2 linked regions of the Homo sapiens genome follow. The protein of the gene in region 1 purifies or fractionates together with the protein of each later gene. This does not show direct contact. Each region holds a gene or a part of one and is shown in the gene's direction. Other genes may lie near its edges. The genes, in order: CCZ1 and RMC1.

Region 1 (16,330 bases):
CCCCAAGAGCATTCCCCAAATCCAAACACCACAGTTAAAAACTGGTGTGAGTAAAGACGAGACTATTAGCATTGGATTAGGTCAAGACTATTAGGCCTGACTGTCTTAGGGAAAATGCTTAGATGTATACAAAGGGATAAATAGCCAGAAAAAAATTTTTTTTCTTTTTTTGAGTCAGAGTCTCGCTCTGTTGCCCAGACTGCAGTGCAGTGGCGCAATCTCAGCTCATGCAACCTCCACCTCCCAGGTTCAAGCAATCTCTCGCCTCAGCTTCCTGAAAGCTGAGATTACAGGTGTGCACCACCATGCCCAGCTAATTTTTGTATTTTTTGTAGACACAGGGTTTTGCCATCTTGGCCAGGCTGGTCTCAAACTCCTGGCCTCAAGTGATCCACCCGCCTTGGCCTCCCAAAGTGCTGGGATGACAGGCGTGAACCACTGCACCTGGCTGGATTTTCTATAGGTAGAATTTTAGTTGGTTATTCACAAATTATATTCATTTTACTGTTTCAAAACTACAATTCAAAGGGACAATTATTTTTGTCCATTTCAAATAACAGTACACTACTTTTTCATTCTTCCAACCCGATCTTAGGGACTTCATTTCAGAGTCTCTGTCAACAGACAATAAGCAGCAATAATGAAGCACTATCTCTATTTAACACCCAAGAAGTGCCAGGTGGTACACTTACATGAAACCTAATAATCTCGTCTTTACCCATACTGAAGTGTAATTATGTTATTTGGATTCTGGGTGTGCTCCGGTGGGGTTGAGTGGGATTTATTTCACCTGTGCATACAAGTAAAACTCTCTGGGGATTAGAAAAAAATTTTTTTAGAGATGGGGTCTTGCTATGTTGCCCAGGCTGGAGTGTGGTGATGCAATCACAGCTCACTGCAGCCTCCAACTCCTGAGCTCAAGTGATTCTCCTGCCTTAGCCTCTCAAGTAGCTGGGACTACAGGTGGTCACCTGTATTTTTGTATTTTTTGTAGAGACAGGTTCTTGCTATGTTGCCAGGGGTGGTCTGAACTCCTAGCCTCAAGTGATCCTCCCACCTGAGCCTCCCAAAGTGCAGGGATCACAGGCATGAACCACCATGGCTGGCCTCTTTGCACATTTGAGCATATTCATTAATTAGCACTTTTTGATTTCGTTGTTATTTTTCTAAGTTTGCATTTTGTAAAAAAAAAAAAAAAAAAAAAGGAGCATTTCCAAGTCTTTGATGGGAAGTATAATTTGAAAATAATTTTTTCAAGTTACCTGAGTTTAGTCATTACATGAATTTCATACAAATTTCCTATTCAACATGTATCTCACAATAAAAAGAATGAAAGGAGATGCAGTAAAATTTTAATCCTAGTTATCTCCAGCTGGAAGGATTACAGAACAGGGAGAGAAGACTGGAGCCTTTATGAACGTGCAGCTGGGCCAGGTGTAGGGGCTCATGCCTGCAATCCCAGCACTTTGGGAGGCCGAGGCGGGTGGATCACCTGAGGTCAGGAGTTCGAGACCACCCTGGCCAACATGGTGAAACCCCATCTCTACTGAAAGTACAAAAATTTGCCAGGCGTGGTGGCAGACGCCTGTAATTCCAGCTACTTGTGAGGCTGAGGCAGGAGAATCACTTGAACCCAGGAGGTGGTGGTTGCAGCCAGCTGAGATCACACCACTGTGCTCCAGCCTGGGTGACAGAGAGAGATTCCATCTCAAAAAAATAATAAATAAATAAATAAAAAGAAATAAAATAAAGTGCAGCATGGTAACTACAGAAAATGAAGGAAAAAAATTAAAATTAAAATTTTAAAAAAGACCAGTCTGGACAACATAGGGAGACCGTGTCGCTACAAAAAAACTTAAAAATTAGCTGGGTGTGGTAGCATGCACCTGTGGTCCCAGCTACTCGGGAGGCTGAGGTGGGAGGATCCCTTGAGCCTGGAAGTTGAGGCCACAGTGAGCCATGATCATGCCACTACACTCCAATCTGGGTGATAGAGTGAGACCCTGTCTCAAAAATAAATTAATAAAATAAATAAAATGAAAAGAGATGCAGAGTTTGCCCAATAATTATCATTAAACCAAAGTAGTAATAAATTCTTTATTCTTTATTTTTTATTTTTATTTTTGAGACAGAGTCTCGCTCTGTTGCCCCCAGGCTGGAGTGCAGTGGCGTGATCTTGGCCTACTGCAACATCTACCTCCTGAGTTCAAGTGATCTTCCCACCTCAGTTTCCCAAGTAGCTGGGATTATAAGTGCCTGCCACCATGCCCAGCTAATTTTTGTATTGTTACTTGAGATGGGGTTTCACCATGTTGGCCAGGCTGGTCTCAAACTCCCAACCTCAGGTGATCCACCCGCCTCAGCCTCCCAAAGTGCTGGGATTACAGGCATGAGCCACCGCACGTGGCCCAAAGTAGTAATAAATTCTGATTTCAAAAAAATCTTTCATGCCTAGAGTGTGTCCCACACTCAAATTAATGAAAGCTTGGCATGCTATTCTGTTCCCAAAATTTCTATTCATTGTTTGACTCATTTGCATGTATTTTCATGTACTGAAGGAGACTGTTAAATATAACATACCCAAAACGAAATCAAAACTCTAGAGAAAATTAGAACAATCCAGAAAAGGGATTGACAGACATATAACCAACTTTATCTTTGCGCTTGCCTTCTCAATTTTTACCTAATTTGTAGATGACCACAGGTCTACCTCAAGAGAGCTTGTTCTCAGCACCAAAATGATGTACGTCGACTTTGTTGTTGTTGAGACAGAGTTTCGCTCTTGTTGCCCAGGCCAGAGTGCAATGGTGCAGTCTCAGCTCAACGCAACTGCCGCCTCCCCAGTTCAAGCAATTCTCCTGCCTCAGCCTCCCGAGTAGCTGGGATTACAGGCATGCACCACCACGCCTGGCTAATTTTGTATTTTTAGTAGAGACAGGGTTTCACCATGTTGGTCAGGCTGGTCTCGAACTCCCGATCTCAGATGATCTGCCCACCTTGGCCTCCCAAAGTACTGGAATTATAGGTATGAGCCACCACGCCTGGCCATATATTGACTTTGAAATGAAAGTCCATGGCCAGGCGTGGTGCCTCACACCTGTAATCCCAACACTTCGGAAGGCCAAGGTTCAAGGATCACTTGAGCCCAGGAGTTTGAGACTAGCTGGGGCAACATAGCAAGATCCCATCTCAAAATTTAAAAGTTAGCTGGGCGTGGTGGTGCGGCTATTGTCCCAACTATTCAGGAGGATGCCTTGACCCACGGAGTTGGAGGCTACAGTGAGCTGTGATCGCACCACTGCACTCCAGTCTGGATGATAGACCAACAACCTAGCTCAAAAAAAAAAAAGAAAGAAAGAAAGAAAGAAAGAAAGAAATGAAGGTCTAGATTGCAACGTAGGTCACAGAGTTGAAAAACTAGGCATCCTATTATTTTCCCTAATTGCTGATAAAACAGGACTGGAAGTGTGGGCTTTCATTTTGACCATTTTTACTTAATTGTAATTTTGGCTTATAGTTTGGGAGAGTAGTTCATATTTTGGTAGGACATGATTTATTTATTTATTTATTTATTTATTTATTTATTTATTGAGATGGAGTCTCACTCTGTCACCAGGCTGGAGCGCGGTGGCACGATCTCGGCTCACTGCAACCTCCGCCTCCCGGGTTGGCAATTCTCCTGCCTCAGCCTTCCAAATAGCTGGGACTACAGGCGCCTGCCACCGCACTAGGGTAATTTTTGTATTTTTAGTAGAGACGGGGTTTCACCATGTTGGCCAGACTGGTCTTGAACCCCTGACCTCAGGTGATCCACCCACCTCGGCCTCCCAAAGTGCTGGGATTACAGGCATGAGTCACCACGCCCGGCCAGGACATGATCTTAAAACCAGCTTTGTGTGTTTGCTTTGGCAGCCTGTATACTAAAATTGGAACAATACAGAGATTAGCATAAAAAAATAAAAATTTAAAAACCAGCTTTGTGAATGTTTAGTTGTTGACTAATAAGAATTATTAAAATACTTCAAACATTATCTAGTATTTTGCTTCAGCATCTGTACATGATGAAGTATTTATAAGATTTTGTAAATACTATAAGTACCACTAATTAGTAAATACTTTAGCAATTTGTAAATACTAAGTATTTTAATATTTAGCACTACTATATAATTGCACAAAATCTAATTAATTAGTATTTTGTAATAGTTATTTGCTAAGTACTGCTACTCAGTAAATATGTTAGTATTTTGTAAGTAGTCATTTGCTAAGTACTGCTACACAGTAAATACTTTCATATTTTGTAAGCAGTCATTTGCTAAGTACGGCTATTCAGTAAATGTTTTAGTATTCTGTAGGTAGTCATTTGCTAAGTACTGATACTCATAAATGCTTTAGGATTTTGTAAGTAGTTATTTACTAAGTAGTAGTACTTAGTAGAGACGTAGTAGCAGTATTTACAAAGTAGTTCTTTCTAGCTCATAAGCAACGGATAGCAAAACAGTGATGATAGGAAATACTTGCCTATTTGTACAGGTTTACAAGCTACGTAGTTAATTCTCTGTCATGACTGCAGTTTAAGTTTATGGAATGGGTACTCAGGAATCCAACTGCAAGCAAAAACCTATCTTCTATCTCTTCTGCTCATGTTAAGGTATGAGGTTACTTTGCAAACACTTAAGAAGACAGATGAAATTGGAATCACCAGGATGGTTTCCACCTGGCCTGTTAATTTATTCACTGGAAAGACTCTTCATTTGCATATGTTTTCACAGGTTTCAAAAAGTCAACTTGTTTTTGGCGGGGTGTATAGATTTTGACATTGTTTTCCTAGGGGCTCTACAATGACTGTAAATCTATTCACCTTAAATTGTTATGTTTTTGAGACAGGGTCTCGGTGTGTTGCCCAGGCTGGCATACAGGGGAGCAATCATGGCTCACTGCAGCCTCCACCTCCCCAGGCTCAGGTGATCCTCCCACCTCAGCCTCCTGAGTAGCTTGGACTACAGGTGCATGCCACCCCGCTCAGCTAAGTTTTGTATTTTTAGTAGAGACGGGGTTTCACCATGTTGGCCAGGCTGATCTCAATCTCCTGACCTCAAGTGATCTGCCCGCCTTGGCCTCCTAAAGTGCTGGGATTACAGATGTGAGCCACTGTTCCTGGCCGGAACTGTGACTTTCTACTTGGAACTGAGCTCCCTTTCCAACACCAAAATGTGTCTTTCCCACAGCTCATTCCCTTGGAATTTTGAGTTCGCAAATTCTTTGTGCAAAACGTCTAACTTCTATTTCTGTAACTGAACTTGATTCGAATTCCCATTGTGCTGGGAGTCAGAATCTTAATTATGTCAGGTAATTAAGCAACCTCTTCTCCCTTCTTACCATAGGCTGGGGGAGAGAGTCGAGGCCCCAGATGGGACTGGAGTATTCTCAGTCCGAATAGTGAACACAGAGTCATCCTCAATCCTCTCTACTCTCGTGGTCTTGAGGGGCCACTGCTACCTCCTCCTGGTCCTGACCTTGAGGCTTCTCAGCACTGGCTTTCTCTGAATTCCTTTTATGCACAAGTAAATCATTCAGCTTCTTCCTGAACAATAAGGATATCTCGTCCAGATACCCCTGTTCCCTGGTTACTCTACTGTTACTGAGCCATGCTGGACCCAGAGGGGAACTCTGCAAAGCTCACCACCTCCCCCAGCTTCCCCAGGGAGAAAGACACACACACCCTCTCCTCTGAGACCTCCAAACCTATGCGGGTATCTGTCATCACTACCACTCCTGCCTCGTACCCGTCCACACCCAAGGACTGTGTTTGGAGAGGCAGATGCATTGAGCTCTAAGCGTTCTTGCATCCTTAACTTTGAAACCATAAAAGCATGTTCTTTTCTTTGATCTCTGCATGTTTAATTTTGTTTTTTGTCATCTCCCTCTTTCGATGCCTCCTGCAATGAATTCTATGTGGGAGGAAGGGAGAGGCAAACATGTACAAGGACACAGAGGTATCCTGGGAGAAACTGTGACTCATACTATAAAATATTAATCTCACTCACTTGTATAGCACCTTGTGCTTTATTTTTATTTATTTATTTATTTATTTATTTATTTATTTATTTTTTGAGGCAGAGTCTCACTCCATCCCGCTGCTGGAGTGCAGTGGCGCAATCTCAGCTCACTGCAACCTCCGCCTCCCAGGTTCAAGCAATTCTCCTGCCTCGGTCTCCCGAGTAGCTGGGACTACAGGCACCTGCCACCACGCATGGCTATTTATTTTTATTTTTTAGTAGAGACGATGTTTCACCATGTTGGGCCTCAAACTCCTGACCTCAAGTGATCTGCCAGCCTCGGCCTCCCAAAGTGCTGGGATTACAGGCATGAGCCACCACACCCAGCCAAAACATGTATTTCTCATGGAATAATTTCATGCACTAGAGCAAGCTAATTGGGAAAGTCAATAGCAAGGAGCAGTAGCAATCGTTTATGAAATAATGATGAGGTGCTGGCACCTGATGCACATTCATAGTCCCATTTAACTCTTCAAGTGAAACTCTCACTTGGCAGGAATTTACTATTAGCCATTTTCCAAATAAGAGATACAGACAAGAGAGTCTCCATCTCTTCTTTGGTGCAAGGAGATTGGTGCAGTCGGTGAGTGGCAAAAGTGGATATGTACCCAGATCTGTCTCCAGTCCAAATTCCAACTCATCACTTCCCTAAAAGTGGTCTATTCTGCCAGGCTGGATAAGGGAAGTGGTTCTGCTTCCAAACTTAATATGTGACAGATAAGGCAATCTAAACCAAAGTCTTCTTGAGCTTGGTCAAACCATATGCTGCCAAGGCTTGAATCCACATAACTGTAACAAGCCATCCCAACTATGCCACAACCCACACACCTCAAAGGCAAGGGAATCCCAGGCAGCAAGGTCCAGGAACAGCCACTCTGGGGAGTCTGCCACCTCTGATATTGCTCCCGTGGCACACACGGTGCCCCATCTGCCTCCAGACCTGCGCTGAAGGAATGGGGGAAAGGGGCAAACTTTGTAGGTGTGGGTGATCCAGTGGTCACTTGAGGTCTCTCAAACAAGGACTCTGTAGATGATGTTAATGGGCCAAACGGAATGCACATCTGCCCTTAAGTGTGTTTCTTTTCTTTCTTTTCTTCTTTCTTTCTTTCTTTTTTTTTTTTTTTTGTTGAGACAGGGTCTGGATCTGTTGCCCAGGCTGGAGTGTAGTGGTGCAATCTTGGCTCACTGCAACCTCCACCTACTGGGTTCAAGTAATTCTTCTGCCTCAAGCCTCCCAAGTAGCTGGAACCACAGGCATGTGCCACCACGCCTGGCTAGTTTTTTGTATTTTAGTAGAGACGGGGCTGGTCTGGAACTCCGGGCCTCAAGTGATCCACCCACCTTGGCCTCCCAAAGTGCTGGGATTACAGCTATGAGCCACCGTGGCTAGCCTTGTTTATTTCTAAATGAGGCTTCCTTTGTGTCTCTACATTTCCTTCTACAAAAAAAACTGCCATGGCACAGGGGCTTATGCCTACAATCCCAGCACTTGGAGAGCCCAAGGCCAGTGGATCACTTGAGTCCAGGAGTTCGAGACCAGCCTGGGTTAACATAGTGAGACCCCAGCTCTACGAAAAATTTAAAAATTAGCCAGCCATGGTGGCATGCACCTGTGGTCCCAGCTATTCGGGAGGCTGAGGTGGGAGGATCACTTGAGCCCAGGAGTTCCAGGCTGCAGTGACGTCTGATCTGGCCACTGCAATCCAGCCTGGGCAACAGAGCAAAGTGCTGTTTTAGAATAAAATACTTTTTAAATAAACTAAAAACAAAACAATGGACCTGGTGTGGGTGGCTCACATCTGTAATCCCAGCACTTTGGGAGGGCAGGTGAGGCAGAATAGGGAATGAGGGTAACCAAGGGTTAAGGCATAAACAAAAGAACAGCAGGTGCAGCCAGTTCTAGGCAAGATTAGGCAGCATAGAGGCCACGTGTTCATTCCCTCAATCAGAGGCTGATTGATGGACGACGGGGGGGGGGGCGGGGGGGAGGGTGACAGCCTCTGATTGACGGGGGGGGGGGGGGGGGCGGGTGCGCGTCTCCACTTCAGCCTCTGATTGGTCACAGGCCAATCCTTCAGAGGGTGTAACCAATCGGAGACCTCTAACGGGCACCTAGGGGCGTTACCTAATTCTTCCAGCTTAATAAAAATCCTAATGGGGGCTCTTGAGCTGTTTGCTCTAGCTTGCTCCTGCTCTGTGAGTTGTACTTTCGCTTCAATAAATCTGTTTCTTCCTTACTTCAGTTTTTTCTTTTGTTTCTTTTCGTTGCTTTGTTCTTTTGTTACTTTGTGCATTGCATTTTGTTCAGTTCTGTGTTCAACAAGCCAAGAACCTGGGCAATCCACGGTCAAGACCTTCCATCCAGTAGCAGAGGCAGGAGGATCCCCTGATGCCAAGAGTTAGAGAGCAGCCGGGGCAACAAAGTGAGACCCTGTCTCTACTATCTATCTATCTATTTTTTAATTATCTGGGCATGGTAGTGCATGCCTGTGGTCTCAGCTACTCCTCAGGCTGAGGTGGGAAGATCCCTTGAGCCCAGGAGTTGAGGCTGCAGTGAGCTATGATGGCACCACTGCACTGCAACCTGGGTGACAAAGCGAGATCTTGTCTCTAAATTAAATTTAAAACAATACCACCAAAACAACAACAGGCTGGGCGGTGGTGTCTCACGCCTGTAATCGGAGCACTTTGGGAGGCCGAAGTGGGAGACCATTTGAGGCCAGGAGTTCGAGAGCAGCCTGGGCAACACAGACCCCACCTCTACAAAAAAATAAAACTGGCCTTGGTGGCGCGCGCCTGTAATCCTAGCTACTTGGGAGGCTGAGGCAGGGGGATTGCTTGAGTCTCGGACGTTGAGGCTGCAGTGAGCTGAGATCGCGCCACTACACTCCAGCCTGGATGACAAACTGAGACCCTATCAGAAAAAACAACAACAAAAAAAAAACAGTGCCCGCTCGGTTTTTCCTGAAACGCGCAGCCCTCGCCTGTAGCCAGGAGAAAACTCCGCGAGCCAGGAAAACACAAACTCGGCCAGGAAACAGCCACCCGGGGGTGCCTGAAGAGGACGCTGCGAGGCGGATTCTTTTTCCGGGCCTGCGGCGAGCGCTTCCGGGGCGGTGGCGACGGAGGCGGAAGTGCGGTGTTTTAGCCGGTGGCTGCTGTCTCTGGGCGGGCCGTGGGAGGCTCCCGAGGTGGGGGCCGGGGCGGGATGGCTGCAGCGGCGGCCGGGGCCGGGAGCGGGCCCTGGGCGGCCCAGGAGAAGCAGTTCCCGCCGGCGCTGCTGAGTTTCTTCATCTACAACCCGCGCTTCGGGCCGCGCGAAGGACAGGTATGCGGAGGGGGCGGCGCGCGGGCGGGCGGCGCCGGTGTTCCCCGGGAAGGTGGCCCTGTGGTTCTGCCCACCTCGAGGGGCACTGACCTAGCCTGCATTGTGCCAGGTGCGAGTCCGGGCAGGGGGCTGCGGCGGGGACCTGACAGCAGGCAGGGACCGCTTCAGGTCCTAGGTCGATGGAATAAAGCCCCGTCGGGTCTATATCACTCCACACCCCAGGTTGAGGCTCTTTGCGCTTTGCTTTGCGTCAGTTCTGGGAAATTAAAATTGAACTTGGCTTTGTTAAGTGGGTAGTCCCCAACTAGAAGCGTGGAACCAGGGTGGCAGACGCTAGCCTTCAAATGATGCAAGCCTGGAGGTCCCTGTAATAGTTTTCGCCCAAATGAGGAAATAAATTAATTTCGGGAGGGGGGTGTGTGTGTGTGTGTGTGTGTGTGTGTGTGTGTGTGTGTGTGTGTGTGGTTTTTCTGAGGTGGGGACGGCGACTTTCTCAAAGGATGTCCGGAGCTGTGTTTTGTTTCCAGCAAGTCAGACTTCTGTTAAAGACTGTCCAGGCTGGGCGCTGTGACTCACGCCTGTAATCCCAGCACTTTAGGAGGCCGAGATGGGAGGATTGCTTGAGGCCAGGGGTTCCAGACCAGCCTGGGCAACATAGCAAGACCCCCAACTCTACAAAAAAAAAAAAAATTGAAAAGTGAGCCGGGCGTGGTGGCACGCACCTGTATTTCCAGTTACTCAGGAGGCTGAGGCCAGAGGATCGCTTGAGCCCAAGTGATTGAGGCTGCAGGTGAGCTGTAATAGCGCCACTGCACTACAGCCTGGGCAGCACAGACCCCATCTCCAGAAAAAGAAAAAAAAGCAACTTGTCAGTTCAAATGGCTGGGAACTGACTGGATTTAATTTTCAGGGAGCTATGTGTCTGCAGATGGGCACACCTTTATTTCTTACAAGCATTGGTGTATTACAAATTAGCACTAGGAAAGAAACCTAGAGACTTGAGTTTTCATAAAAATTACCTGGTGCTACTTCAGATGTGACTTACTGACTATCGAAATTGCCTTTCTGACTGGTGGGCAGTATTTGCACAATGATGAGATCATTCCTGTTCTTCTTCTTATTTTAAATAATAGAGACGTCTCACTGTGTTGCCATGCTGGTCTTGAACTCCTGAGCTCAAGTGATCCTCCCGCCTCAGCCTCTGAAAATACTAGGATTACAATTCCTGTTTTTCTAAAACCGGTTTTTGTTTTGTTTTGTCATTAGCATGTGTGACACAAGAGGTCGACATTGAACTTAGCGTTTTCAATAGCTAAGATGAAATGTTTCTATTCATGTTGTGCTTCTGTTTCCTCATGTTTCAGGAGGAAAATAAGATTTTATTTTATCATCCAAATGAGGTAGAAAAGAATGAGAAGATTAGAAATGTCGGATTGTGTGAAGCTATTGTACAGTTTACAAGGTAATACCTCTAAGTGTGCTTTTAGCGTTCAGTGAATTCTTAAAACTGCTGCTGGAGAATTGTCCCAAACATATTTTTTTAACCTTTGTAGGACATTTAGCCCATCAAAACCTGCAAAATCTTTACATACACAGAAGAACAGACAGTTCTTCAATGAACCAGAAGAAAATTTCTGGATGGTCATGGTATTTACATACACAGTGTATCTTTCTGAAATTGTATGGTGAAGTTATGGGTGATCTTTACTGTTCAGAATTTAGGAAAGTTCTCTGGCTGTTGCATCCAAGTAAAATTAAAATAAAATTGGTTGCAATTTTAAAATCAAGTTCTTCCTATTTGCTTTATTCATTCTTGGGGCTGTTTTAAGAAGCTATGTTTCTGATGCTGTAGCATGTTCAAAGTTTTTAAATTAAGGCAAAATAAACATGGTCTAATGAATTCATTGTATAATTTCAGTTTATCAAACTTTGTAGGTTGTTCGGAATCCTATAATTGAAAAACAGAGTAAAGATGGAAAACCAGTTATTGAATATCAAGAGGAGGAGTTGTTGGTAATGTGTCATTGTTTGTTTATTTATTTATTTTTTTAAATGTATTGCTGAGTATGTTGAATGCCTTACTTGGTCGGATTTAAACTAGGAGGCTTTTGCAGAAGTTTCTCGGGGTATATAGCAAAGGTTTATGTTTATCATTTACATGAGCACAATCTTTTTAAAATGTATATGCACCCAATCTCACTAATACCTTCTACTCTTCATTTATATTGAAAGCCCTCCTAAAGTAAGGCTTACTGATTCACAAATTAGAGTTTAAACACTTCTGGCTGGGAACAGTGGCTCACACCTGTAATCCTAGTACTTTGGGAGGTCAAGGCAGGCAGATTACTTGAGGTCAGGGGTCCGAGACCAGCCTGGCCAATATGGCGGAACCCTGTCTCTACTAAAACTACAAAAACTGGCCAGGGATGGTGGCGCACACCTGTCATCCCGGCTTCTCAGGAGGCTGAGGCAGGAGAATCGCTTGAACCGGGGACGCAAATGTTGCAGTGAGCCAAGATTGTACCACTGCGCTCCAGCCTGGACAACAGAGCGAGACTCCATCTCAAAAAAAAAAAAAAAAGAACGCAAACACTTTTTTTTCAGCACGCAACTATTGTGGGACAAAGTTTATAAACATTATACTGTTTGGCCAAGAGTTAGTGTACCTTTGCCATCTATCCAGTAGACATTGTTTTTCCCTTGAACTGAGCTGTGTGCTGTGTTTTCGCGTCTGCAGGACAAGGTTTATAGCTCGGTGCTGCGGCAGTGCTACAGCATGTACAAGGTAAGCGTGGCGTTCTTTCTCAACTCAGAGTCCAGCCACTTACCCCTATCTCTAGGCTCCAGGGTTGTTTAAAGAGAAATCTGTAAATGACTGCAAAGTGACTCTGTATTTGTCTTAGAGAAGAAAATAATGAGGCCTTTGAAACAGGTAGTGAGGTTTATGCCTACATTTATTCAGTAAGTATTGAACTCCCTTCTCTTTTCTCAGCCTTATAGTAGGAATGTGTCCCCATTGATGAAAAAGTGTGTCTATGTGCTCAAGGAATGTACAGAATGCAGATAATTTTATGATTTAAAAGTTTCAGTGAGGCAGGGCACAGTGGATCACACCTGTAATTTCAGCATTCTGGGAGGCTAAGGTGGGAGGATTGCTTGAGCCCAGGAGTTCAGGACCAGTCTGGGCAATATAGCAAGAACCCATCTCTACAAAAAATTTTTATAAAAGTTAGCCAGGTATCATGGTGCATGCCTGTAGTCCCAGCTACCTGGGAGGCTGAGGTGGGAGGATCGCTCGCGCCTTGGAGGTCGAGGCTGCAGTGAACTGTGATTGCACCACTGCACTCTACCCTGGGCAACAGAGCGAGATTCCATCTCAAAAAAAAAAAAAAAAAGGATAAAAAGTTTGGTGATTCCATTTATTAACAGAACACTGAAAAATAAAAAAACAGAAATGTGGGTGATATTATGTATGTAAATTGAAACTTCAGGGTAAGTTGAAATTTTTGAAAGATGCCTAGAGCAATTAGGTGGTTTCATAAATAAGACAGCATCACTTAACAGTATTTTTTGTAACTTACATTTTTAACTCAAGTTTTCTCATGTAAATATTCTCTGTTGGAAAGAACTGGGAGATTTAATGAGCTGAATTAATAATCTAAAGGAAAAAAAGAACTTGTTATACTGAAAAAGTGAGCATAGGAAACTGATTTTTTTTCCTGCAATCTTTTACCTCACTAGCTTTTTAATGGTACATTTCTGAAAGCCATGGAAGACGGAGGCGTCAAGCTTCTGAAAGAAAGATTAGAGAAATTCTTCCATCGGGTAAGTATTTTGAATTTCATTTATAACTTTAGTAAGCATTCAGCAGGTTTTTAGAGAAATATAGACAGACAAGTTTGTTTCTTATATACAAAAAACCCAGAACTTGAAAGTGGCAAAGAGCCTGAGACAGACCGTCGCAAAACTGGAGCAGCGAGGAAACGCATGAGGCTTGTGCTCTGGAACCTTCCCTCCAGCTGTGGTGTAAGGCAGAGCTTCCTGCGTTTGCCCGGGGCTCTTAAAGGGTCCTGGAGACATCGTTTGGCCTCCCTGTGTTTTACCTGCATCTGTCCTTCTGGGCTTACTCAGCAGCCATCTTTTGTGTGATAGATTAGTTGATAAGGAAAACTTAATTATTGGAGTTGCACAATCTCAGGGATTGGTTCTGTTCACTAAACGGGCGTGAACCGTCTTGATGTAGGTAAGAGTTACTGGCCTTGACAGACTTTGTCAGATTAGCGATTGGGGAGATTTGTTCCAAGTGCTGTCCTCTTTCGTTGTAATTGAATTTTGCATGTTTCACCCTACCTTGTCAAGCTCAGTTTATCTTTTTTTTAAAAGGAAACAAAGAGACAGGGTCTTGTCTTGGTTGTTTTGCCCAGGCTGGTTTCAAGCGATCTTCCCTCCTTGGCCTCCCAAAGTGCTGGGGTTAAAGGCATGAGCCAACTCGCCCAGCCTAGTTTATCTCGAAGCAACAATTCTCAATTTATTTTCTTCTGAAAATACCTTCTGTATCTATTTTTGAATTCGACTTTCTAAAACAGCTTTCATAGCTATTTTTGAATTTTTTTGTTTCTCTGAATTACTTTTCTTTGTTTTGTCATTTTAATGACCACAGTTATCCACTCGCATATTATCTCCTGGTTTCTGTTCTTGTCCTCATTTCTCTCTTACCCATCAACATATGGATAGAACTGTTGTCCTGAGTACATATCATTTAGACATGATTTTAGTATAAGATGGCACTCTTGGCTGGGTGTGGTGGCTTACGCCTGTGATCCCACCACTTTGGGAGGCCGATGCGGGCAGATCTTGAGGTCATGAGTTCGAGACCAGCCTGGCCAACATGGTGAAACCTCATCTCTACTAAAAAATACCAAAAAACTAGCTGGGCGTGGTGGCGCACGCCTGTAATCCCAGCTATTCTGGAGGCTGAGGCAGGAGAATCGCTTGAACCCCGGAGGCGAGGTTGCAGTGAGCCGAGATCACACCGCTGCACTCCAGCCTGGGTGACAGACCAAGACTCCATCTCGGGGGGGGAAATAAAGATGGCACTCTCTGTAGTATTAATGGATAGATCCCTCATTAGGTTAGTCTAATTTGAAGAGCATTAAGGCAGGGAGTTAATTTTTTTTTTTTTTTTTTTTTGAGACAGAATCTTACTCTTGTCACCCAGGCTAGAGTGCAATGGTGTGATCTTGGCTCACTGCAACCTTAGTCTCCCAAGTTCAAGTGATTCTCCTGTCTCAGCCTCCTGAATAGTTGGGATTACAGGCTACCACGCCCGGCTAATGTTGTAATTTTATTAGAGACGGGGTTTTGTCATGTTGGCGAGGCTGGTCTCAAACTCCTGACCTCAAGTGATGTGCCCGCCTTGGCCTCCCAAAGGGCTGGGATTACAGGCGCGAGCCGCTGTGCCTGGCCAGGAATTAAAAACTTGAAAGTGCTAGCTGGGCACAGTGGCTCATGCCTGTATTCCCAGCGCTTTGGGACGCCTAGACACGAGAATCACGGAGGCCAGAAGTTCAAGACCAGCCTAGGCAACATAGCAAGACTCTGTCTATACCAAAAAAAAAAAAAAAAATTTTTGGCCAGGCGTGGTGGCTCACACCTCTAATCCCAGCACTTTGGGAGGCCGAGGCAGGCAGATCACGAGTCAGGAGATTGAGACCATCCTGGCTAACATGGTGAAACCCCATCTCTACTAAAAATGGAAAAAAATAGCTGGGCATGGTGGCAGGCGCCTGTAGTCCCAGCTGCTCAGGAGGCTGAGGCAGGAGAATGGTGTGAACCTGGAAGGCGGAGCTTGCAGTGAGCTGAGATCGCACCACTGCACTCCAGCCTGGATGACAGAGCAAGACTCTGTCACAAAAAAATAAATTTAAAGCAGTAAAACACAATACTGAATAAACATTAAGTAGATATGTTTGAACTTTGTATCTTGGAATTGGTACTGAGACTGAGTTGGCACTCAGTTACCCATGTCTTCACCACGGCCTCATTGTTGCGCTGTTTGCTAGTATGTAATTGTACCATAAATGTGAGTCTGACATAAGATTATTTTCAGTTATCAAGGAGCATTATATTCAGTGTACTATTAGTAAATTTTATGCCTTATTTTTTTTCCCACAGTATTTGCAAACGCTACATTTGCAGTCATGTGACCTACTTGACATTTTTGGTGGAATCAGCTTCTTCCCGTTGGATAAAATGACTTATTTGAAAATCCAGTCCTTTATTAATAGAATGGAGGAAAGCCTGAATATAGTCAAATACACTGCTTTTCTCTATAACGATCAGCTCATCTGGTAGGTACACCCCGAGGCATGGTATTAAAAGAAGAAATTAAGATAATAAAAACAGCAGTGACTGGATTGATGACAGGTTGTCAAACAGGAACTTGCAGCGGGGAGGATGGGTAGGAAGCATCTTCATAGATATTGTCAAAATAAAGCAGTGATTATTTAAAGCAGAACTAGGGTGATTTGGGTTCAAATTTCCAAGCAGAGGAGTTTAAAACTGGTTGCATGAAAGATGAAAGGCTGGGCACGGTGGCTCACACCTGTAATCTTAGCACTTTGGGAGGCTGAGGCGGGTGAATCACGAGGTCAGGAGTTGGAGACCAGCCTGGTCAACATAGTGAAACCCTGTCTCTACTAAAAATACAAAAAGTAGCTGGGCGTGGTGGTGCATGCCTGTAATCCCAGCTACTCAGGAGGCTGAGGCAGGAGAATCACTTGAACCCGGGAGGCGGAGGTTGCAGTGAGCCGAGATGGCACCACTGTACCCCAGCCTGGCAACAGAGAGAGACTCTGTCTCCAAAAAAAAAAAAAAAAAAAAAAAAAAGAGAAAATGTTCCTATCAAGTAAGGTTTAGGAATCCTGTTTTTATTTTGGAGTTTTTT
Region 2 (16,440 bases), on another chromosome or scaffold:
TTAGTTTCTTCCATCAGTTTTAAGTGTTAAAGTCTTGGGGAAGCCTCTTAGTGCAGCAACACATTTCTCTGACATCAGCTGCTTGAGGAATGAATTTTTGAAAGGAGTTACTAAACTGTAACTGAATATTTGTATTAACTTAAAAAAAATTGAATCGTAAGCCTGCTGCTGTTGAGACAGATGATCCGAATTGGTCTTTTTATCTTTCCTGTGTTTTGGTTGTCTTCAGTTATTTTCTGGTCACTTTTTAAGTTAATATTTATTTTTCTTGTCTTGTAGTATGCCAACGTAGGTTGGCAGTATGCTGCCTAATCCAAATTTGTGTGTGTCTGTGTGTTTTTCCTTTCAGGATTTTTGTAATTTTATCCCTGATAATTCCCAGCTGGAATACACACAGGAGTGCAAGGTATGACCCCAGGCCCTTTCTCAGCTGCTGGTGTCAGTGGTGTTGAGCTGGGTTATGTAGTGGAGAGCGGGGCATTGGGGTCGCAGGGAGCACAGACTTGAAGTCAGACTGTCCCTCATGTTGATTCCCAAACTGGAGTCAGGCGGGGTGTTTGCTTTGTGACACTGAACAGTTTTCTAAGTTTGAAAGCTTGTTCCTTTGGAGGGGGAGGGTTCAATGGATGATGCGTGGTGAACACCCAGTAGTGCTAGCCCTTGGGGCTGTCGTCTGTCTTGCCCTTTTTCTCCTCACTGGGCTGACAGCACATCTGGGTCTGGGCCCTGGGATGCCTCACAGCCACCTGGAGTGGAGGTTTCTGGTGAGGAGTTTCTTTTTCTGTTTCCTGAAGTTTCCTTTCCTCAATTTGTTGTCTTTGTCTTGTCCTTACTCTTTCTTTCTTCTCCTAGGTGTTGATTCTAATCCACATTAATGAGATTTGCTGGGTGTAGTAAACTAGGCTAGAGGGAGCTGAGCTAAAATTGGCAGTGTGGCACCTTGGGCGCTGACAGAAGCTGCTAGTGGTTGGGGTAGGGCTTTCTGCATTTTTGTGACTGTTTTGCTCAATGGAGTTCAGGGCGGACTCTTTGGTGAGGAGAGGTGCATCCCCACCACTGTCCTGCCTGCCCTGCAGTGGCCCCGTGTGAAGAGACCCTCAGCCCGGCCCTTCTCAAACCTGTCTGCCCTCAAGCGAGTCGGGTGTGTGTCTCAGGGTCCTCAACCCATTTTAGTCAACACTCACTAAAGACCCTTAGGCCTTTGTACATTTTTAATAACCATTTTTATAACGTGGGTGACTAAGAATGTTGGCAGTATGGTGATTCCTGCAGGTAGAAGCTGCTGTCTGTGAGCTCTGGTCAGTTACTTTTCTACAAAACACAGACTTCTCCTGTTCTGTTTAGTAGAAGGAATTAGGATTCAGGTTCTTGAATGAAGAGTTATGGGCAAAAATCAGGGAACATTGTATTTAAAAGAAAATTTGTTTTGTTAATTAGTAAACATTCCGGGGAACGTTCATTAAAGAATGACAAACTGCAGAGTTTGTGAAGCTTTTGAAGAGAGTTATATGTGTTTTTTCTTATTAATTAAAAATATTTTTAAAAAATTTTTCTTAGACTAAGAATGCCAACATTCTAGGATTCTGCTGGACTAGTTCAACTGAAATTGTCTTCATAACAGATCAAGGAATCGAATTTTACCAGGTATTATGTTTATCATTTATGTTTGTTGGTTAAAGTTCAGTGATAGCATTCTGGCAGCCTTTTGAATTCAGTACTGAATATATATATATATATTTTAAACATTTTCTAGAGATGGAGTCTTGCTCTGTTGCCCAGGCTGCAGTGCAGTGGCACCATCATGGCTCACTGTAATCTCAAACTCCTGGGCTCAAGCAATCCTCCTGCCTCAGTCTCCTGAGTAGGTGGGACTACAGGCATGTACCACCATGCCTGGCTAATTTTTCTTTTTATTATTTTATTTTATTTTATTTTATTTTTGAGACGGAGTTTCGCTCTTGTTGCCCAGGCTGGTGGAGTGCAATGGCGCGATCTCGGCTCACCGCAACCTCCGCCTCCCAGGTTCAAGCGATTCTCCTGTCTCAGCCTCGTGAGTAGATGGGATTACAGGCATGCATCACCATGCCCGGGTAATTTTGTATTTTTAGTAGAGACGGGATTTCTCCATGTTGAGACTGGTCTCGAACTCCCGACCTCAGGTGATCCACCCGCCTCGGCCTCCCAAAGTGCTGGGATTACAGGCGTGAGCCACTGCGCCCGGCCCTGGCTAATTTTTAAACTTTTTTGTAGAGACGAAGTCTTGCTATGTTGCCCAGGCTGGTGTCAAACTCCTAACCTCAACTCCTGCCTTGGCCACTCAGCTTTAGTCTCTTGCTGGGGATTTTATTCTTTTTTTTTTTTTTTATAATTGCAAGTAATAAATTAAAAAAAAAAAAAAGAAAAGAAAAAGGGCTTGGTGGCCCATGCCTGTAATTCCAGCTCTTTGGAAGGCCAAGGTGGGTGGATGGCTTGAGTCCAGGAGTCTGAGACCAGCCAGGCCAACATGATGAAATCCCATCTCTATAAAAAATACAAAATGTTAGTCAGGCATGGTGGTGTGCGCCTGTAGTCCCAGCTACTTGGGAGGCTGAAGTGGGAGGATTGCTTGAGCCTGGGAGGCAGGAGGTTGCAGTGAGCCAAGATCACAGCACTGCACTCCAGCCTGGATGACAGTGAGACCCCATCTCAAAAAAAAAAACAAAAACACAACAACATTAAAAAGTGGGCAAAGGCCAGGTACAGTGGCTCACACCTGTAATCCCAGCACTTTGGGAGACCGAGGTGGGCAGATCACCTGAGGTCAGGAGTTCGAGACCAGCATGGCCAACATGACGAAACCCTGTCTCTATTAAAAATACAAAAATTAGCCAGGTTGGTGGCAGGCACCTGTAATCCCAGCTACTAGGGAGGCTGAGGCCAGGGAATTGCTTGAACCTGGAAGGCGGAGCTTGTAGTGAGCTGAGATGGTGCCACTGCACTCCAGCCTGGGCAACAGAGCGAGACTCCGTCTCAAAAAAAAAAAAGTGGGCAAAGGACATGAGCAGACACTTTTTAAAAGAAGACACACATGCGACCAACAAACATAAAAGAGCTCAACATCACTGATCATTAGAGAAATGCAAATCAAAACCACAATGAGAAACTATCTCACACTAGTCAGCATAGCCATTATAAAAAAGTCAAAGAATAACAGATACTGGCAAGGTTGTGGAGAAAAGGGAACCCTTATGCACTATTGCTGGGAGTGTAAATTAGTTCAACCTTTGTGGAAAACAGTATGGCGATTCCTCAGAGAGCTAAAAGCAGAACTACTGTTTGACCTAGCAGCCCCATTACTGGGTGTAATATGCAGAGGAATATAAATTATTCTACCATAAAGGCACATGCACGTGAATGTTCATTGCAGCACTGTTCACAATGGCAAAGACATGGAATCATCCTAAATGCCCATCAGTGACAGATTGGATAAAGAAAATGTGGTACATATATACCATGGAATACTATGCAGCCATAAAAATGAACAAGATCATGTCTTTTGTGGGAACATGGATGGAGCTGGAGGCCATCATCCTTAGCAAACTAACACAGGAACAGAAAACCAAATACCACATGATCTCACTTCTAAGTGGGAGCTAAATGTAAGTTATGAATGCAAAGAAGGAAACAACAGACACGGGGGGCTACTTGAGCAGGGGAGGGTGGGAGGAGGGAGAGGAGCAGAAAAGATAACTATTGGGTACTGGACTTAATACCTGGGTGATGAAATAATCTGTACCACAAACCCCGTGACATGAGTTTACGTATGTAACAAACCTTCACATCTATCCCTGAACCTAAAAGTTAAAACAAAAAACATTCAAACATTGCAAGATATGTAATATGGAAAGCAAATGTTCCCTATAATCCCGATAAATAATTATTATGAACAGTTTGGTGCATATTCCTCTATTTTTAAAAATAAATACAAACTTCTTTTTAACAAAAAGGGGAATGTTGTATATAAACTTTTGCAGCTAGCTTTTTTTTTTTTTGTCCAAAGTGTATCTTGGACATCTTTCTATATTTTATTCTGACTGGGTAGTATTCCACTGTATGGATGGACTGCAGTTTAAAAATTTTCTTGTTATTGGACATTGGCTGGTTTTCCATTTTTTTGTGATTACAAATAACCCTTCAGTAACATGCTTGTACACACTTCTTTATATTAGAGGGAGAGTTGCAGTATAGGTACGAACATCTGAAAAGCTGAACCAGTATCGCCAAATTTCTTCTAGACATGTGTATTTTCACTAGCAATATAGGAACTTCTGCTTTTCATACCTTTAGGAGGACTGGATATTATCAGTCTATAGACATTTGCCAACCTGAGAGGTAGAAAGACTTTTTTTTTTTTTTTTTTTTCTGAGACAGAGTCTCACTCCGTCGCCCAGGCTGGAGTGCAATGGTGCGATCTCGGCTCACGGCAACCTCCACCTCCTGGGTTCAAGCAATTCTCCTGCCTCAGCCTCCCAAGTAGCTGGGTCTACAGGCGCCCAGCACCACGCCTGGCTAATTTTTGTATTTTTAGAAGAGGTGGGGTTTCACCATGTTGGCCAGGCTGGTCTTGAACCCCTGGCCTCAAATAATCCACCTATCTCGGCCCCCTAAAGTGCTGGGATTACAGGCGTGAGCCACCATGCCTGGCCGAAAGACATTTTAATTTGCATTTTACATTACTAGGGAAGTAAGCATCTTTTCATTTGTATATTGTCCATTTGTATTTTGTTAACTTCCTCTTAAAATTTTTTTATTTTGTAATAATTATTTTGAGACAGGATCTCTGTCACCCAGGCTGGAGTACAGTGGCACAATCACGGCTCACTGCAGCCTCGACCTCCTAGCCTCACGTAGTCCTCCCACCTCAGCTTCCTGAGTAGCTGGAACTACAGGTGTGTGCCAGCACGCCCAACTTAATTTTTTTTTCCTTTTTTTTTTTTTGTAGAGATGAGGTCTTGCTGTGTTGCCTAGACTGGTCTTGAACTCCTAGGTTCAAGCCATTCTTCTGCCTTGGCCTCCCAGAGTGCTGGGATTTATGGGCATGAGCCACTGTGTGTGGTCAAAAATATTTTTTTTACTGTGGTAAAAAAACATACAACATTTATTATCTTAACTGTTTTTAAGTGTTCAGTTCAGTAGTGTTAAGTATATTCATTCACATTGTTATGAAATAGCTCCAGAACTTTTTTCATCTTGTGAAACCAAAACTATCCAGTAAACAACTCCCCTTATCCCTTCCCTGCAGCCCCAGCAATCTCTATTTTACTTTCTGTTTCTATGAATTTGACTCCTTTTTTTTTAAGATGGAGTCTTGCTCTGTTGCCCAGGCTGGAGTGCAGTGGCGTGATCTCAGCTCACTGCAACCTCTGTCTCCTGGGTTCAGGCGATTCTCCTGTCTCAGCTTCCTGAATAGCTGGGATTACAGGTGTGCGCCACCACGCCTGGCTAATTTTTGTATTTTTGGTAGAGATGGGATTTCACCATGTTGGCCAAGCTGGTCTTGAACTCCTGACTTCAGGTGATCCACTCACCTCAGCCTCCCAAAGTGCTGGGATTACAGGCGTGAGCCACTGTGTCCGGCCGAATTTGATTACCTTTTATACTTCATATAAGTGAAATTATACAGTATTTGTCCCTTTGTGACTGGCTTATTTCATCTACCATAATTTCCTACAGGTTCCCCCATGCCATAGCATGTGATAGGGTTTCCTTTTTAAGACTGATAATACCGCACTGAGCGTATACACCACATTTTGCTTATCCATTCATCTGTTGAGGGACATTTGGGTTGCTTCTGCCTCTTGGCCATTGTGAATAGTGCTGCTGTCAATACAGGTATGCAGATACCGCTTCAAGATCCCGTTTTCAGTTCTTTTAGATTTATACCCAGAGTGAGATTGCTGGAGCAGATGGTAGTTCTGTTTCTGAATATTTTAGGGAACCGCTATACTGTTTTCCATAGCAGTTACACCATTTTGCAATCCCTCCAAGTGTACAAGGGTCCCAGTTTCTCCATATCCTCACCAACACTTGCTGTTTTGTTTTGTTTTGTTTTTGATACTAGCCATCTTAATTGTGGTTTTGATTTGCGCTCTTTGTTGATTAGTGATGTTGAGCACTTTTGTGTGTGTGTTTTGGCCACTTTGTGTATCATCTTTGGAGAAATGACTAATTCGGGTCATTGTGCCTATTTTTAAAATCAAATTACTATTATTTGTTGAATTGTAGTTCTTTATATATTCTGATATTAACACCTTCTTAGAGATACAATTTGCAAGTATTTTCTCCGAATCCGGAGGTTGCCTTTCCACTCTGTGGATTGTGTCCTTTGATGTACCTGCCTGTTTCTTTTCATCTGTTCCAGCTTCCTGACCTATTAAGCATGCTTCTGAGATCTCTAAGGGGAACTAATTTAGAGGGTGTTAAGAGTTCTTTCAGGTTTTAATTTTGTTGACCTAATGAAAGTCATATAATTTAGAATGTATGGTTAGAGAAAATACACCTGTGTGTTAATGCCATGGTGCTTTGCTGTAAGGCCATCATCGAAATCTTAGTAATGACTGGCTGGGCACGGTGGCTCATGCCTGTAATCCTAGCACTTTGGGAGGCCGAGGTGGGCGATCATCTGAGGTCAGGAGTTCGAGACCAGCCTGGCCGCCATGGCGAAACCCCGTCTCTATTAAACTCCATCTTTACTAAGTGCCGTCTCTACTGTCTCAAAATAAAAATACAAAAATTAGCTGGGTGTGGTGGTGGGCGCCTATAATCCCAGTTACTTGGGAGGCTGAGGCAGAAGAATCCCTTGAACGTGGGAGGTGGAGGTTGCGGTGAGCCGAGATTGTGCCACTGCACTCCAGCCTGGGCAACAAGAGTGAAACTCCGTCTCAAAAAAAAAAAAAATTTGTAATGACCAATAGGAGAACTTTAAACAAACTTTAGACAAATTCCATACACACAGAAATAGAATTTTGTACATGTGATTGCATGGGAAGGATGGCTTGCTTTCTGGGGGAGTTCCCTATGGTAATCATTTAAAAGTCTGTCTTTCTGTTCTCTGCAGTGGGAAAGTATACCTTAAGGTTACCTAGATGGCTTCAGATCTTCAAGAAAAAAGTTAAAAAGAAAGAAGACTCTAGCACATCCTAATTATTATAGTTCTTAAGAAGCTTACGGCTCCTGCCCCTGACTTGCGCAGCAGTTCTTCAGTGCAGTGTACCATGAGCATTAATGTCTTGGGGGCTCTGTACAGTGTTCTGTAATATCGGAATATTTAGGGTACATTGAAAATGTGCCTGGATTATAAAGTACTGCATTTGTATGGAGTCTTATGAACACATCTGCTAGAAGAAGGGAGCTCCTCCCAGGCCCAGTGTAGACTGGAGTCGAGGTGGAGGCCAAGCAGAAGGCAGATCTGCCATGGTCTGGGAGGTGGCCGAGTTAACACATGGGGTCCTGGAGGTGTCAGTTTCTTTTGGCCGTTTCCTGGATGAGGAGAAATTTGTTGTAAATTGCTCTTAGGTGTATCCATGTGCTCCACATGCCCAGGCATGTGGAGGCACAGATAAGGATTTTGGAGGGAAACAGCCTACCCAGGCTATAATTGCTTTGTTAAGGGGCAGGTTCCCTAATCCACTCTTGGAGCCTTGTTTCTCATCTGGCTAATAGGGCCAGTGATGCCTGCCTCTCAGTCGTGGCAAAGAGTAAATGAGTTAGGAGGCTCTGTAAAGCACCAAGCATAGGGCTGGTTAAGTAGTAGCTGTAATAAGTACAAGTGAGAATGTTCATTTCACTTAGTGGGTTTCTTCTGCTTTTTATTCTCAGAGCGCACTGTAAGGATCTTCTGACAGTTTGCTGTTATTGATTTATTTATTAATTGAGACTGAATCTCGCTCTGTCACTCACGCTGGAGTGTGATGGTGCAATCTTGACTCACTGCAACCTCTGCCTCCTGGGTTCATTCAAGCAATTCTTGTGCCTCAGCCTTCTGAGTAGCTGGAATTACAGGCATGTGCCACCACGCCTGGCTAATTTTTGTATTTTTAGTAGAGATGGGGTTTTACCATTTTGTCCAGGCTGGTCTCGAACTCCTGACCTCAGGTGATCCGCCCACCTTAGCCTCCCAAAGTGCTGGGATTAGTTTGCCGTTTTTTAAATGAAGATCCTGTTTCTTAAACTCTGCTTCAGGTATTACCAGAGAAACGGAGTCTGAAACTCTTGAAGAGCCACAATCTCAATGTGAATTGGTACATGTACTGCCCCGAGAGCGCCGTGATCTTGCTGTCTACCACGGTCCTGGAGAATGTCCTGCAGCCTTTTCACTTTAGGGTAAGAGGAAGCCTCCCCTGAAAAAAACACCTTTCCCCAGTTGTCCCCTGTTCCTGTAGCATCCTAATGTGTCAGGCACGTTAGGGACAGGTTCCTCTAGCCGTAACGTCACCGCTCTGACCACTAGAGGGCACTCTGTATACCCGTCAGCTCCTGGAGCCATTCATTCTATGCTGGGCAGACAGGCTGTGAGAGGACATGGGGGACGGTGGAAAGGATCCAAAGACGAAGTCTGTGTTTATCCTTGTTGGTTTTACACAGGGAATGATGAAACATTGAAGGGGTTTAATAAGCTTTTCCTAAAACATTTTCCCCCTAAACAGGCTGGCACTATGTCGAAGCTGCCCAAATTTGAGATTGAATTACCAGCTGCGCCTAAGTCAACTAAACCCAGCCTTTCCGAAAGAGACATCGCAATGGCTACCATGTATGTCCGTGTCAGAGAGAATTCCATCCTGTGATTGCTTTCAGTAATATAAATAATAGAAGGAGTGTGTTACAAGCACCACGTGATGCCCTGACCCCTAGAACACATAAGGAGGACTCCCCTTGTTCTGGGTATTCAGTGTATAGGTCCTGTGAACATAGAAAACCTGCAGTGTTTTTGGCATTCCTTTTTGATTTTTATCAGCTTTGTGATGCTAAGGAATTCCTTTACCTTTCTAGCCTGATAAAACAAGAACATTGAACCAATTTATTTCTTAGTATCTTTGTTTTAGAATTTCTTCTTCTTTTTTTTTTTTTTTCGAGACAGAGTCTTGTTCTGTCCCCTAGGCTGGAGTGCAGTGGTGCAGTGTCGGCTCACTGCAGCCTCCACCTCCCAGGCTCAAACGATTCTTCTGCTTCAGCCTCCCAAGTAGCTGGGATTACAAGTGTGCGTCACCTCGCCCGGCTAGTCTTTGTATTTTTGGTAGAGACAGGGCTTCACCATGTTGGCCAGGCTGGTCTCGAACTCCTGACCTCAAGTGATCCACCTGCCTTGGCTTCCCAAAGTGCTGGGATTACAGGCATGAGCCACTGTGCCTGGCCAAGTTTATTTTTTTTAAAAGCTCAGTTAAATAATAATTGTTCTAAATAAGAAAATAGATTAAGATTTTATGTAACAGACATGGAACTAAATTACGTATATATAGAGGTATATTTTCTTTTACTTTTTTTTTTTGTTTGTTTTTGTGATGGAGTCTTGCTCTGTTGCCAGGCTGGAGTACAGTGGCACGATCTTGGCTCACTGCAACCTCCGCCTCCCAGGTTCAAGCGATTCTCCTGCCTCAGCCTCCCGAGTAGCTGGGACTACAGGTGCGTGCCACCATGCCCAACTAATTTTTGTATTTTTAGTAGAGACAGGGTTTCACCATGTTGGCCAGGGTGGTCTCGGTCTCTTGACCTCTTGATCTGCCCTCCTCAGCCTCCCAAAGTGTTGGGATTACAGGCGTGAGCCACCACGCCTGGCAGTACGGAGGTATATTTTCATTTGAAAAAGTGGATATCTCAGTTTTTAAATTTGTAATGAAAATTTTAAACACACAATAGAGACTAATAAAAAAGAACCCCTGTATGCCTGTATCTGATTCGACAATAGTCAAAATTTTGCTTCTAAGTTACTTCTGATTCTTCTGTGGCCTAAAACAGTGGCCCAAACTTTCAAACTTTATGGTAGTTAGTATAATGTTCTTTCATTTCTTCTTCCTTTTTTTTTAAACGTACTCTTCTGTGGCATTCCTGTTTATTTTTAAATTTTTTTTGGAGAGTGTCGCTCTGTTGCCCAGGCTGGAGTGCAGTGTTACAATCTCAGCTCACCACAACCTCCGCCTTCTAGGTTCAAGTGATTTTCCTGCCACAGTCTCCCAAGTAGCTGGGACTACAGGCGCATGCCACCACATCTGGATAATTTTTGTATTTTCTGAAGAGATGGAGTTTCACCATGTTGCCCAGGCTGGTCTTGAACTCCTGGGCTCGGGTGATCCTCCCGCCTCATCCTCCCAAAGTGCTGGGTTTATAGGCATGAGCCGCCGTGCCCAGCCAGCATTCCTGTTTAGACAATAGATAAAGTGAGAGCAGTCCTGGCTGAAGTGGAGGTGGGGACCTGTTCCCTCCCACCTTGGTCTCCTCCTTGTCCCTGGGCAGGCCCAGCACAGAGTTTACCACTGGACTAGAATATGCATTCAGGAACTGTTCACAGCAACATTTATTAGATGGCACTTAAATAGAAAAGGCTGAGCATGGTGGCACACACCTGTAATACCAGTGACTGGGGAGGCCAAGGCAGGGGGATCGCCTTGAGGCCAGGAGTTCAAGACCAGCCCGGGCAACATAGTGAGACCCTGTTTCTACAAAAAAATTTAAAAATTAGCCAGGCACGGTGGCACGTGCATGTAGTCCTAGCTACTGGGGAGGCTGAGGTGAGGGAAGATCGCCAAAGCCTAGGAGGTGGAGGTTGCAGTGAGCTGTGGTTGCACCACTGCATTCCAGCCTGGGTGACAGAGGGAGACCCTGTCTCTGAAAAATGAAAAAAAAAAATAGTGATTATATTTTCCTGTTATTAAGGAATATACATTCATTATACAAAACTTGGAAAACAGAGAAGAAAATGAACTTAGCATATCACTCAAGTATAACTATTACATGTGTTTCTTTCCAATCATTTTAGACTCTATGCTTAGGTTTGGGGTTTTCTTTTAAAATATTATGATCAAGCTGTGTTTAGTGTGTGTTCTCTTTTCCACTTAACTTTATAATAGGCTTTGAGTAACTGCATGTTTCTTTGTAAACACTTGTTGGCAGCAAAATACTCCATTAAGTGAATATCTTATAATTTACTTAACCGTGATGCCATTTAGAACAAAGGAATTTTGAATGGCCAGATGTGATTTATGTCTGTTTGTTCCCTAATTAGATACGGGCAGCTGTATGTTCTCTTCTTGAGGCATCATTCTCGGACCTCCAACAGCACAGGAGCGGAGGTGGTCCTCTATCATCTACCACGGTAGATTTCATGCTTTGTTTTCCCTCTCTCTCTGATTTTAAAATGTGAACTGCAGCTTGTTGATCTGTTTTTTGCTTTCTATCCTACAGAGAAGGTGCCTGTAAAAAGATGCACATATTGAAGTTAAATAGGACGGGAAAGTTTGCCCTGAACGTGGTGGACAACCTGGTAGTCGTGCATCATCAGGATACAGAGGTACAAGCTGTCTGCGTTTCTACCAAAGTTAAGGTTGCTTAAAAGCCTTGTGAAAATTGGTGGCTGGGCACGGTGGATCACGCCTGTAATCCCAGCACTTTGGGAGGCCAAGGCGGACAGATTGCTTGAGCCCAGGAGTTCGAGACCAGCCTGAGCAGCATGGCAAAACCCCACCTATATAAAAAATACAAAAATTAGCCGGGCGTGGTAGTGCACGCCTATAGTCCCAGCTACTTGTGGGGCTAAGGCTGGAGGATGGCTTGAGCCCAGGAGGTCGGGGCTTCAGTGAGTGGAGATCGCGCCACTGCACTCCAGCCTGGGTGATGGAGCAAGATCCTGTCTCCGAAAAAAAAAAAAAATTGGCAAAATGTCTGAATAAGACTAGAAAGTGCATTTTTATGCTAAGAGTTTTGGTCTTCCAGATGGAAATGGGTTTGGTAGTCTCAAGTAGTTTAGAAAAAAGTGATTGTGTCAGTTGATTAAAGATAATTCAAAACTATTTCAGAAACTAACGCTTGAGATTTGACCTTGGAAGAAGGTGGGAATCCGCTCCATTCCACGAGTACTTGAACTCTCTGTTGCAATTGTGAGCATGGATGACAGTGCTGGGGGATAATGGTTTTGAGGCCGTGTGGACCAGGACAACTAGAATGGGTCCTGTGGGCTGGGCCTCTGATATAAAGAAGCTGCTTACCTCCTCTACCCTCCCAGAGGGTGGTGACGCTAACTCTGTGACACGTGAGGATGTTTCCAGTTGAAATGACAGAGATCTGCTTAGGTCACTTTGAGTGAGCTCATCAAAGGAAGCATGTCATAAATGCAGGAAATACTTGTGAGAGGAGATAAAAATATTAAAAGAGAGTTGTGATGTTAATGACAAATTCCTTCTCAAGTAAGAGCTAGCCTGTAGGGAGGAAATGCAAACACAGGCTTTTAAACTGATTTAAACAGCAAGATGGGATGGAATGAAAGCAACTGGGCAAACCATGATTGATTTTGGCCTCAGTCTTGTCTTTTTCCCCCCCAGACATCGGTAATATTCGATATCAAGTTACGGGGAGAGTTTGACGGCTCCGTTACCTTCCACCACCCCGTGCTTCCCGCTCGATCGATCCAGCCCTATCAGATCCCCATCACAGGTAACACGGGTTCTGTAGAGGAGTCTGTGCTGCCCTTTCACCATGTGGCTGTGTTCTCACCATGATCTTTGGGAGTCACGTTAAAAGTGGAGTGAGGAATAAACAGAGATTCCCAGATCTGTCTGATTTTGCCAGGGGCCATTTGTTCCAGTTTTGTTGTTGTTTTGAGACAGTCTCACTGAGTCACCCAGGCTGGTAGGTAGTGTCGTGATCTTGGCTCACTACAGTCTCCACCTCCTGGGTTCAAGTGATTATCCTGCCTCAGCCTCCCAAGTAGTGGGGATTACAGGTGTGTGCCACCGTGCCCAGCTAATTTTTATATTTTTTTAAATTTATTTTTTTGACAGAGCCTCACTTTGTTGCCCAGGCTGGAGTGCAGTGGCATGATCTCGGCTCACTGCAACCTCCACCTGTCTGTCACAAGGTTCAAGCTTGTGAGGTATTCAAGCAATTGAACCAAGTATTCAATCGCTTAAATACTTGTGAGAGGAGATAAGGTTCAAGTGATTCTCCTGCCTCAGCCTCCCAAGTAGCTGGGATTACAGGCGTGCACCACCACGCCCAGCTAATTTTTTTGTATTTTTAGTAGAGATGGGGTTTCACCATGTTGGCCAGGCTGGTCTTGAACTTCTGGCCTCAAGTGATCTGCCCACCTTGGCCTCTCAAAGTGGTGGGATTACAGGCATGAGCCACCACGCCTGGCCCAAATTTTTATATTTTTGGTAGAGATGGGGTTTCACCATGTTGGCCAGACTGGTCTTGAACTCCTGACCTCAGGTGATCCGCCTGCCTCGCTCTCCCAAAGTGCTAGGATTACAAGTGTGAGCCACCATGCCCAGCCTGTTCTAGTTTTTTAAAAAATGCAACTACTACTGATCCTATAAGCTAAAATTATGTTGTGAAAAAAGCATTTTCTAAGATAGATGAATCTCCCTTGGGAGGAAATAGAATAATTTATCTTCCCTGAGCTTTAGAATGGATAGTTTTGATTAGCCGTTGATGGTGAAATATGTTTTAATATTGAATACACCCGTAACGTTTTCTGTTTGCCTTAGCTCTGTAACGCTGAAATTAACTTTGGCTGTAGGTTTGTTACTGTAACCTGGGATCACTTTTCTCTTTCTCACATTCCGTGTGACAGTGATGATGAATATTGCATTCTTTGGGACTGACAGTCACAGTAAGTGCTTCGGCTGTGGCTCTTAGGCTTACCCAAATCAGTCCTCCTTCTGTCTGGAGAGGTGGGGTTGGGAAGTCAGAAGAGTGGAGGTCAGGAATTCAGGAAAAGGGAAAGAAGTCATTTATTTGCTTCGTTTTGCCTTTTTCCAGTGTAATTGATTTTAAGATAGAACTGAAAGAATATTCAACACACACTCTCTCTCTTTTTTTTTTTTCCTTAAACAGAACTTTATTTTCTCACAGTTCTGGAGGCTAGAAGTTCAAGATCAAGATGTCTGCAGGTTTGCTTTCTTCTGAGGCCTCCCTCCTGGCAGGCCTCTTTGCAGATGGCCACCTTCTCACTGTGTTCTCACAGGGTCTTTCTTCTGTGCCTGTCCCTCGCAGCAGTCTCTCCCGGCTCTCTTTTGAAGGAGATTGGAGTGCAGAATTGGCTAGTCTGAGGTTTCAGTGTGCAAGACGTAGTCAGATGGCTCACATTTGGAACCCTAGTAGTAATGTTTTATTCTTTGTCCGATGGCATTGGGCGGGTTGACCCAGCCTGCAGTCAGGATTTCCTTGTACCGTTCACCCGGGAGTTCAGAATCGCACTCTGGCTGAAAGTTCAGCAAGAGCACCATTGTCAGCCTGACTGCCCTGTCTTGCTGGACCAGCCAAAAGCTTAGTTACTTTCTGGCACAGTTGGAGGAAGGAGCTGGTTCTTAACAGACGTTCAATTAGGTCTTTTGGCTTTCTGTGTTCTTTCAAGCTTCTTCCTTTTCCTTTGTAAATAATGTTAGTATTGAAAGAATAGATTTTGCCAAGTGATTGTCTTGTGTCTGCTGCCCACTTGGCATGAAGGTAACTGCTGGTGAATTGGGGGAAAAAAACTAAACATTTAGAACAAGCCTGTCCAACCCACGGTCTGTGGGCCACATGTGGCCCAGGACAGCTTTGAATGCAGCCCAACACAAATTCTTAAACTTTCTTAAAACATTATGAGATTTTTTTAATGATATTTTTTAAGCTCATCAGCTATTGTTAGTGTTAGTGTATTTTATGTGTGGCCCAAGACCATTCTTCTTCTTCCTCTTAAGGCCCAGGGAAGCCAAAACATTGGACACCCCTGGCTTAGAACCTTCAGCTCTGTTCCGGTGGTACAGGACCAGTTAGGAGGCATCAGGTTCTAACCATCTGGTCATAAGGGAACAGATGCGAGGCCTGGTCACAGTAACAGCCCGTGCAGAGATCAATAGGAGGAAATCAGGAATCCACTGAGGGTCTGGGGATCTAGGTAGTGTGGGCTGCAAAGCATTTTCAGAGGTTAGTGACTCTCCTTTTGTTTCCTGCTGGGCTGTGAGCCCTGGCGGCTTGATGCATCCGTGTGTCTTGCCCACTGTGCTGCCACTGGGTGGGCGTGCTCAGGAATTGAATGGGCCTGTTGAGAAAGATATAACCAGCACTTTTGGGAAGAGTCAGCCACCCTTTTTCTTTTTGTTTTGGGCCTGTTAGAACAGTGGGTCTCAATCTGACTACATATTAGGATCATCTGGGGGGCCTTAAAAATGAAAGCTCTCACCTGACAGTGTGTAGGTCAGCCACCCAAAGGTGAGGGCTGTGCACTCGGCGCAGACCTTGACACTTAGGTCCAAAGCGCGAGTGCTCTTCGCCAAAGCTTGTCTGCCTGGGCTCTTTCCTACCTTTGGGTGGTCTGTTCACAATGACCCTTTCTCTGACCAGCTGATTGAAACCTGCCTTCTGATTGTACCTGGGTAATTGGAACAGAACCAGGAGTCATGGTTAGCTTGTAGGGCTGCCTGCATGGCTCATGAGCAGTATAACTGGTTGTTAACGGTCCCTGTCATGTGAGGTTTTGGGGGTCTGCTTCCCAGACGAGCTCACTGTGCTTGGACCTACTCTATGCAATGGATAATCGAACTAATTATTTAGATAATTAAGTGGCTGGGCACAGTGGCTCATGCCTGTAATCGCAGCATGTTGGGAGGCTGAGGTGGGCAGATCACTTAAGCCCAGGAGTTGGAGACCAGCCTAGGTAACATAGACCTTGTCTTCACAAAAAAAAAAAAAAAAAAAAAAAAAAGAAAAAAAGTTAGGGCATGGTCACATGCCTGTAGTCCTAGCTACTCTGAAGGCTGAGGCAGGAGGACCACTTGAGCCAAGGAGTTCGTGGTTATAGTGGGCTATGATCAACTACTGCACTCAAGCCTGGACAGCAGAGCAACACCCTCTCTTAAAGAAAAAAAAAGATAATTAAGCTACAAGCCACATTTATTTGAAACATTCTCCGTGGATGATCTGGGTATTTGATTTTGAATCCTTCAAGTAAATTTCTCAGTTCCTTAACGTGCATATGTAAACGATCATGAGTCATCTTTGGTTATTAAAAATAACCCAAACCACAGTGATTGAAGCCTTGACATGCTTTCTTTTTCTTGGTGAGATTTTCCTGGATTGTTAGCTCCTTCCCCCTTCCTCCCCGTACGTGCTTTCAGTGAGACGGAACAGTTCATTTCTTCCTTGACTACAATTGAATAAACATTTCGTAATGACATTAAAAAGTATTGACTTTTGTGTCATAAGTACCAG

Evidence for each region.
Region 2: the proteins of CCZ1 (region 1) and RMC1 purify together in Homo sapiens (affinity purification with mass spectrometry; 2 studies listed by BioGRID and IntAct, with this or other methods). This does not show direct contact.

The regions. Positions count from the first base shown.
Region 1 is NC_000007.14:5,889,536-5,905,865, forward strand, and holds the start of CCZ1 (vacuolar fusion protein CCZ1 homolog), read left to right. Parts: upstream 1-9,197; 5' UTR 9,198-9,264; coding exon 9,265-9,384; intron 9,385-10,748; coding exon 10,749-10,846; intron 10,847-10,937; coding exon 10,938-11,031; intron 11,032-11,319; coding exon 11,320-11,397; intron 11,398-12,121; coding exon 12,122-12,169; intron 12,170-13,125; coding exon 13,126-13,209; intron 13,210-15,558; coding exon 15,559-15,734; intron 15,735-16,330. UniProt on the Homo sapiens protein: Acts in concert with MON1A, as a guanine exchange factor (GEF) for RAB7, promotes the exchange of GDP to GTP, converting it from an inactive GDP-bound form into an active GTP-bound form.
Region 2 is NC_000018.10:23,507,636-23,524,075, forward strand, and holds part of RMC1 (regulator of MON1-CCZ1 complex), read left to right. Parts: intron 1-349; coding exon 350-406; intron 407-1,557; coding exon 1,558-1,644; intron 1,645-8,220; coding exon 8,221-8,361; intron 8,362-8,684; coding exon 8,685-8,788; intron 8,789-11,254; coding exon 11,255-11,344; intron 11,345-11,433; coding exon 11,434-11,539; intron 11,540-12,566; coding exon 12,567-12,678; intron 12,679-13,955; exon of another isoform or gene 13,956-15,254; coding exon of another isoform or gene 15,255-15,271; intron 15,272-16,440. UniProt on the Homo sapiens protein: Component of the CCZ1-MON1 RAB7A guanine exchange factor (GEF). Acts as a positive regulator of CCZ1-MON1A/B function necessary for endosomal/autophagic flux and efficient RAB7A localization.